2 separate regions of the Homo sapiens genome follow, and region 1 is linked to region 2. The links come from fine-mapping of genetic effects on gene expression. Tissue or cell type: whole blood. Region 2 holds a variant in brackets; the other region holds the start of a gene. Each region is shown on its reference strand, or each on the opposite one. Region 1 holds the start of MPO (myeloperoxidase). Region 2 has its middle 4.8 kb from the start of PRTN3.

Region 1 (4,359 bases), not on the chromosome of region 2:
ACAATATTTAAAGTTCTTCTTATCAATATTTAAAAATATATATTATGTTTACATATAGGATATCAAATTCTTAAATGAGGTATTGGTGAGTGGTGGGATTATGGGCAATTATTTTCCTTCCTATTGTTTATTTATGTGAAGACAATGATAAACCTTGAAAGAAAAAAGTACCCACAATCTCACTTGATGATGAGTAATTTTGATTTATTTTTATTTTTGCATACTCGTGTTCTCAAACTTTTCATCAGTGAAAATTATATTACTTAAAGGATTGAAAAATCATTTCCAAAAGCCTCTAAAATTCTAGAGCTTGATTCACAAAGAGCCACTCGACCAACTTCACACACAGCAAGTCACTGGCAGGGCAAAAGCTTGGTTCCCCTTCTCAGCAGGGGACAGAATCCCTGGACACACTGGGAAGATATTCTGGGTGTTGCTGTCCCTTGTCCCTTGGCCAAGAGGTGGTCTGGGCATAGAAGACAAGAGTGGGCCGGGCGCGGTGGCTCACGCCTGTAATCCCAACAGTGGGTGGATCAGGAGGAGGTCAGGAGTTTGAGACCAGCCTGGCCAACATGTTGAAACCCCATCTCTACTAAAAATACAAAATATTAGCCGGGCATGGTGGCGGGCGCCTGTAATCCCAGCTACTTGGGAGGCTGAGGCAGGAGAATTGCTTGAACCCAGGAGGCAGAGGTTGCAGTGAGCCGAGATTGCACCACTGTACTCCAGCTCCGCCAACAGTGAGAGACCCTGTCTCAAAAAAAAAAAAAAAAAAAAAGAGTGGGTGGCGGGAAGGTGGCTGAAGGTAGGAGGGGGAACCTAAATGGGACATGGGAGGCATGGTTGGCACGAGCTCAGCCTGACCAGGGCCCAGAGAGGTAGACTGATTCAGTCAAAAGTCGTAGTACTTTTCCTGCTGAGATTGGTGGCCCTTTTGCTGGGCTTTCTCAAGCAAGAAATATCCTCTTCTGTTTCAGAATTATTCTGAATCATTAACCCAAGTCCTCCCAACTGCACTGATCCTGTCCCAGAGAGGCCCTGGGCTGCATCACCTAACTGATCACTAACCACAACCAGTTCTGCTCTCTCCTGGTTCCTGAAATCCAGGAGCAGATGGTGGTGGGGAGGAGGAGTTTGGAGACAGCCCTCTACCAGAAGCCAAGAAGAAAGGGGAGTGAGGAGGGATAGAGGAAGTTATCTTGGTCCTGCGCCCACAGTCCCCAGGGTCCTCCTTCCTGTGAAGCCCAACGGTCTCCAGCCAGATTTCCTGTCCCCTTAGCCCCACCAAGAACCAGAGGCTGCCCATTGGGTGGCTGTTGGATGCAGGTTACTGTTGGAGTGGGGGATGGCCACCTGAGGCCAATTGGGTCATCTTTACTCCAGGTCTCCCTTTCATCCTCCTGTCTTCCCTGGGGGCACTCTATTCCCTGCAATTCCTTGGGCTACCAGTTCCTGACTTTTGTTCCTTTCAAAGGAACCCTGGATAACCAGTGTAACCAGAATTTCAGAGGGGTTAGTTGTGTGTATCCCCTGGGGACAAGCACTGGTATAGGCACACAATGGTGAGCTGAGAAATCTTGGGCTGGTAGTGCTAAATTCAAAGGCTGGGGACAGGCTGGGGCCAGTGGCTCATGCCTGTAATCCCAGCACTTTGGGAGGCTGAGGCGGGTGGATCACTTGAGGTCAGGAGTTCAAGACCAGCCTGGCCAACATGGTGAAACCCTGTATCTACTAAAAATACAAAAATTAGCTTCTTGCCTAAGGAAAAATACAAAAATTACTTCTTGCCTAAGGAAATAATTGATGATGTGGCTAGAGGCTAGGGCGTGGTGGCGGGCACCTGTAATCCCAGCTACTCGGGAGGCTGAGGCAGAAGAATCGCTTGAACCATTGCACATCAGCCTGGGCAACAGAGCAAGATAACGTCTCAAAAAAAAAAAAAAAAAAGGCTGGGGACAATGCTGGCCCCTCCTTTCCTGCCCCTTCCCCCCATTTCAGGGGCCCCTCTGTGTGTACCTTCCAACCCCAGTGGGGGAGGAGAAAGAGTTCAGTCTCCAGGATCAGACCTTCCTCTACCTCACCCCACCCCCAGCTTAGAGGACATAAAAGCGCAGATTGAGCTAAGAGGAGCTGACAATATCAGGTGAGCTGTGGAGGTGGGGTCCTTGGAAGCTGGATGACAGCAGCTGGCAAGGGGATAAGAGAGCAGTGAGCCCCTCCCTCAAGGAGGTCTGGCTTTATCCATAGACAGGGCCCTCTGAGGTGGGGCTGAGGTACAAAGGGGGATTGAGCAGCCCAGGAGAAGAGAGATGGGGGTTCCCTTCTTCTCTTCTCTCAGATGCATGGTGGACTTAGGACCTTGCTGGGCTGGGGGTCTCACTGCAGAGATGAAGCTGCTTCTGGCCCTAGCAGGGCTCCTGGCCATTCTGGCCACGCCCCAGCCCTCTGAAGGTGCTGCTCCAGGTAACAGTTCCCAAGGTGGGAGAAGATGGTGTGTTGGGGTGGTTGTGTTCCAGAGACCCCTTTTCTCAGAGCAGGCCTTCCTAGCTCTGGGGCCTGATAGGGGGTTGGGGCCCATTCCTGACTTTGTGATCCCTGCTCTGGGCAGCTGTCCTGGGGGAGGTGGACACCTCGTTGGTGCTGAGCTCCATGGAGGAGGCCAAGCAGCTGGTGGACAAGGCCTACAAGGAGCGGCGGGAAAGGTGGGGCACGAGGCACTGCCCAGCTCTGGGCAAGGATGTCCCAGGCCTTTCAGAGAAGCAGCAGGCAGCAGGGAGCTTGAAGGTGGGAGAGGGGGACTATGGGGACCCATGTGGACTCCCTTTCTGTCTGTCTGTCCCTGTGTTTCTGGATGGGAGAACAGCTTAAAAGCCATCCTTCCCAAAGCCTTGCCTCTGTCTGGACACCCAGGTCCATATCCTTTTTATAAAAGGAAGCCTTCCTCCCACCCGTGGGCCTGCCTGCATGGTCCTGCATGTCTGCCCCTGGGCTGGGGCTCTGCTGGGTGGGTCTGTATCCCTTCTCTGGCCCTCACTCCTCCTTTCTCCAAGCAGCATCAAGCAGCGGCTTCGCAGCGGCTCAGCCAGCCCCATGGAACTCCTATCCTACTTCAAGCAGCCGGTGGCAGCCACCAGGACGGCGGTGAGGGCCGCTGACTACCTGCACGTGGCTCTAGACCTGCTGGAGAGGAAGCTGCGGTCCCTGTGGCGAAGGCCATTCAATGTCACTGGTACTGTTGCCCATCACACCCCAGGTCCCTGCTCCACTAGTGACTCCTCCTAGGGACCCCAGCCGTCTCTCAGTGATCCCCTCAACTTCTTCCTCCAGGGAGTCTCAGGAGTCTCCAGGGCTCCTCAGCCTCAGGTTGCCTGGGATAGGAAGTGAGGCGGCTCAGCTCCCCCATTGTTCTTTCCCCCGGCAGATGTGCTGACGCCCGCCCAGCTGAATGTGTTGTCCAAGTCAAGCGGCTGCGCCTACCAGGACGTGGGGGTGACTTGCCCGGAGCAGGACAAATACCGCACCATCACCGGGATGTGCAACAACAGGTGCGGCTGGCTGGGGGTGGCTGCAGGAACCGGGCTCAGAGAGGCGTCCCGGACGCCACAAGCCTCCCGGTGTCAGCGCCCTGTCCTCCCCTGCAGACGCAGCCCCACGCTGGGGGCCTCCAACCGTGCCTTTGTGCGCTGGCTGCCGGCGGAGTATGAGGACGGCTTCTCTCTTCCCTACGGCTGGACGCCCGGGGTCAAGCGCAACGGCTTCCCGGTGGCTCTGGTGAGCGCCGGCGGGCAGAGGGGGCGAGGCCCGGCCACGCGGTGCGCGGACCCAGGCGCCAGCTGATCTCCGTGTCCCGCAGGCTCGCGCGGTCTCCAACGAGATCGTGCGCTTCCCCACTGATCAGCTGACTCCGGACCAGGAGCGCTCACTCATGTTCATGCAATGGGGCCAGCTGTTGGACCACGACCTCGACTTCACCCCTGAGCCGGCCGCCCGGGCCTCCTTCGTCACTGGCGTCAACTGCGAGACCAGCTGCGTTCAGCAGCCGCCCTGCTTCCCGCTCAAGGTGGCCCTGCTTCCCGCCCACTGCCTGGGTTGGGAGAGGGGAGATTGTTTCTGGAAGGGGCCATCTCCCTTCTGTGCCCAGGTTTCCTTTCCCAGACGCTGAGGAAGGCTGGCCCTGCCTCCCTTGTGTCCACAGCACTGGCTGCTCAGCTATGACCTGTCTCCTTCCTGCGCCTGGGCTCAGCCAGCTGGCAGCCAGGGCCGTCCATTTGCTCACTGCCTCTGGCAGGCCAAGGGAGAGAGGGTTGTTCCTCCTTGGCTGACAGGAGTCCTGTTGGTGGAATCACTGGCTCTTTGTTA
Region 2 (4,375 bases):
TTTTTTTGGTTGGCTGTTTAATTTTTTGTAGAAATGGGGTCTTGCTATGTTGCCCTGGCTGGTCTTGAACTGCCAGCCTTCAGGGACGCTCCTGCCTTGACCTCCCCAAATGCTGGGATCACAGGCATGAGCCACCATGACCGACCTGATGTGTATTAAAGAACTAGAGCTGTGGGCCGGGCGCGGTGGCTCACGCCTGTAATCCCAGCACTTTGGGAGGCCGAGGCGGGCGGATCACGAGGTCAGGAGATCGAGACCATCCTGGCTAACACGGTGAAACCCCGTTTCTACTAAAAATACAAAAAATTAGCCGGGCGTGGTAGCGGGCGCCTGTAGTCCCAGCTACTCGGGAGGCTGAGGCAGGAGAATGGCGTGAACCCGGGAGGCGGAGCTTGCAGTGAGCAGAGATTGTGCCACTGCACTCCAGCCTGGGCGACAGAGCGAGACTCCGTCTCAAAAAAAAAAAAAAGAAAAAGAACTAGAGCTGTGGCCGGGCGCGGTGGCTGTTGCCTGTAATCCCAGCACTTTGGGAGGCTGAGGCAGATGGATCACAAGGTCAGGAGTTCAAGACCAGCCTGGGCAACATGGTGAAACCCCGACTCTACTAAAAATACAAAAATTAGCTGGGTGTGGTGGCAGATGCCTGTAATCCCAGCTACTTGGGAGGCTGAGGGAGGAGAATTACTTGAACCCGGGAGGTGGAGGGGGCAGTGAGCTGAGATCGCGTCACTGCACTCCAGCCTGGGCAACAGAGCGAGACACCGTCTCAAAATAAAAGGGTTATTCTCATTCAACAAAAGTGCTGTTGGTTTCAGCCATGAGTCAGCTCATGCTGAGGCAAGCTGTTTGGCTTGCAGTCCTCAGTTTCCCCACCTGTAAAGGCGGGTGAGGACGGTAATAGGACCTTCTGCAGGGCAGCAGTGGGGGTCGACGGATTTGAGGTTTCTTGATTTGTTTTTACATGGAGTTTTGTTCTTGTCACCCAGGCTGGAGTGCAGTGGTGTGACCTTGGCTTCCTGGGTTCAAGCCATTCTCCTGCGTCAGCCTCCTAAGTAGCTGGGATTACAGGCACCTGCCACCACGCCTGAATAATTTGTTTTTTGTATTTGTAGTAGAGACGGGATTTCACCATGTTGGCCAGGCTGGTCTCGAACTCCTGACCTCAGGTGATCCGCCGGCCTCAGCCTCCCAAAGTGCTGGGATTACAGGCGTGAGCCACCGCGCCCTGCCTTTTTTTTTTTTTAATAGAGAGGGGTCTTGCTATGCTGCCCAGGCTCGTCTGGAACTCCTGGGCTCCAGCGATCCTCCCCCACCATCTGGCCACTACCGAATTGTTAAGTGGGTGAATTGCTTGGTGTGTGTGAAGGACATCTCAATAAAGCTGTCAACCAAAAAAAAAAGAAAAGAAAGAAAAGAAAGACCTTGCACACACACTGCTGGATCTAGCACACGCGAGAGCTGCCCAGGGGGCTGCCCCGTCCTCACTGTACGTGGGCTTCCCCGTCAGGATCTGTTTCCACGCAAGGCTGATGCAGCCCGGTCCTGACCGGAGGGTCCCAGCACCGTCCCGCGGGCCCCGGGTCCTCCAGGCTCCCTGTGCGTCCTGGGGGGACTCAAAAGCACAGGCCAGGGCGACAGGAGCGCTGGGAGCGGGTAGCAGGGAGGGTTCCGTGGAACACGCTGGGGGCTTTGCAG[G/A]GGTCGGCCTGGGGGCAGAGGTAGTGGGGGCCCCTTCCTGTACCAACCGTAGGTGGCGCAACTGGTAACGGCTTCAGGGATCGCAGGTGACGCCGCCTGGGGCCGAGGGGAGACCCATGCGGGGCTCAGGCCTGTGTCTCTGTCTCTGTCTCTCTCCCCGCCCTCTTTCTGTCTCCTTCTCTGTCTCTGTCTCTGTCTCCCTCTGTCTCTGTCTCTCTGTCTCAGTCTGTCTCTGTCTCCCTATATCTGTCTGTCTCTTCATCTCTGTGTCTGTGTCTGTGTCTCTCTGTGTCATCGCTGTCTCCCTTTTTTAAAACTATCTCTCTCAGTCTCTCTGGCTCTGTCCCTCTTTTTCCGTCTCTCTCTGTCTCTGTGTCTCTGTCCGTCTCTGTCTCTCCATCTTTCTTGTTCTCTCTTTTTTCTCTCCTCTACTACTTTCTTTTTCTTTCTTTCTTTCTTTTTTTTTTTGAGATGAAGTCTTGCTCTGTTGCCCAGGCTGGAGTGCAGTGGCGCGATCTCGGCTCACTGCAAGCTCCGCCTCCTGGGTACAAGCGATTCTCCTGCCTCAGCCTCCTGAATAGCTGGGATTACAGGCGCCCACCACCACACCCAGCTAATTTTTGTATTTTTAGTAGAGACGAGGTTTCACCATGTTGGCCAGGCTGGTCTCGAACTCCTGACCTCAGGTGATCCACCCGCCTCGGCCTCCCAAAGTGCTGGGATGACAGGCGTGAGCCACTGTGCCCGGCCTCCTTTCCTCTCCTCTTTATAAAGGAAAACCTTCTCTCCCTGAGTGACGGGAAGATGCTGGTTCGCCCGCGAGGCTCAGCCTCGCAGTGGTTGTGTTTTGTGTGTGTTTTGTGCCGACCGTTGACCTTCCCGTGTGCTTGGGGCCCTGACACCCGGCCGCCTTCCACACCCCCCAGGCCCATCCACCCACCTGTCCCCTGATGCCCCCTCTCACGGGATTTCTAAGCCAAACCCAGACATTTCACAATCTGTTCTGAGAATTCCGAAAATTTAAAAACCTTCTCAAGACACCAGTGAGTGGGGCCGGGTAGAGGGGCACAGAGAAGAAACAGAACAGCTGTTTTTAGCCTGAGCACAGCTGGCTCTGCCAGGAGGCTGCACGCGTCGGGGCCTGGACGGGGCTGCGGGGTGGGGGCTGCACGCACGCGTCGGGGCCTGGACGGGGCTGCGGGGTGGGGGCTGCACGCGTCGGGGCCTGGACGGGGCTGCGGGGTGGCGGGTGGGTCCACGGATGGGACCCCGTTCTATGTCCCTGAAATCCGAGGCGCGGAGAGGACTCGGGCTGCCCACAGTCACACGCAGCCCCGCTCTGAGGGCCCTGCAGCCGGGCTGACCGCTACCAGGGGAACCCGAGAACAGCACCCTTGGGCCCAGGAAGGGGGAGCAGCAGGGGCTGGGGGGAGGAGGGCAGAAACCGCCTCTGGCAGGAATCCCGCCCCAGCAGGGGGACCCTCATGACCGAACGTGGCCCCGAGCCGGGGGCACCAGAAGCCCTTGAACCCCAATCCTGCCTTGGGCCTCAGTTTCCCCATCTGAACAATGATCAGGCAGTGGCTTTGCCTCTCCAAACCCAGGCAGGGCCCCCACCGGCTGGGCTCCTGAGCCATTGGCACCCCTCTCTAGGCTTAGTTTCCCCCTCTGTAAAGAGAACCCGTTGGCCGGGCGCGGTGGCTCACGCCTGTCATCCCAGCACTTTGGGAGGCTGAGGCGGGCGGATCACGAGGTCAGGAGATCGAGACCATCCTGGCTAACACGGTGAAACCCCGTCTCTACTAAAAATACAAAAAATTAGCCGGGCACGGTGGCGGGTGCCTGTAGTCCCAGCTACTCGGGAGGCTGAGGCAGGAGAATGGCGTGAACCCGGGAGGTGGAGGTTGCAGTGAGCCGAGATCGCGCCACTGGACTCCAGCCTGGGCGACAGAGCGAGACTCCGTCTCAAAAAAAAAAAAAAAAAAGGACCCGTTATACCCACAAAAGAAAGAAAAGCAGCAGTTCCAACACAAACCTGCACATGAGTGTCCACAGCAGTGAGGGTCACAGTGGCCGGAAGTGGAGAGGCTCAGACGTCCATCCACAGGGGCCTCGAGCAGCACAGTGAGGCCTCCAGGCGTGGCAACAGGACGCAGCCGTGAAACGGACCCAGCTGTGACCCGACCACGGCGCGGAGGCACCGTGAGGACGTCACGCTCCGTGAGAGACGCCGGACACGAAAGACCACATAGTGTGTGATCCCATTGCTATGAAATGTCCAGGACAAGCCCATCCACAGAGACAGGAAGAGGACGCGTGGGTGCCGCGGACTGGGGAGGGGACAGGGAGTGACGGCTGATGGGGACAGGGATTCCTTTGGCGGTGATGAAATATTCTGGAACTCAACAGAGGTCATGACCACACAACATTGTGAGTGTACCGAAGACCATTGAATTGCACACTTCATTTTATTTTATTTTATTTTTTATTTTATTGAGACAGAGTCTCACTCTATCCCCTAGCCTGCAGTGCGGTGGCTCAATCTTGGCTCACTGCAAGCTCCGCCTCCCGGGTTCATGCCACTCTCCTGCCTCAGCCTCCCGACTAGCTGAGATTACAGGTGCATGCCACCATGCCAGGCTAATTTTTTGTATTTTTAGTACAGACAGGGTTTCACCAT

The links. PIP is the estimated chance that this variant, and not a neighbour inherited with it, causes the effect. A credible set is the group of variants that fine-mapping cannot tell apart.
Region 1: it holds the start of MPO, and the variant in region 2 is the best candidate, but not a certain one, in a credible set for the expression of MPO in whole blood (TOPMed, PIP 0.87).

The regions. Positions count from the first base shown.
Region 1 is chr17:58,278,709-58,283,067 of GRCh38, reverse strand. It overlaps MPO (myeloperoxidase), which reads left to right and starts at 2,133. Exons shown (of 12, transcript NM_000250.2): 1 at 2,133-2,463; 2 at 2,609-2,702; 3 at 3,054-3,229; 4 at 3,422-3,545; 5 at 3,642-3,771; 6 at 3,854-4,060. The coding sequence starts at 2,310. RefSeq lists promoters at 853-1,053, 1,099-1,324, 1,209-1,610, 2,003-2,143, 1,549-2,143 and enhancers at 1,183-1,200, 3,785-4,359.
Region 2 is chr19:833,975-838,349 of GRCh38, reverse strand. No RefSeq gene overlaps it. Among named protein-coding and RNA genes, the nearest start is that of PRTN3, 4.8 kb to the left of the region's middle. The variant G/A (reference allele first, on the strand shown) is at 1,696.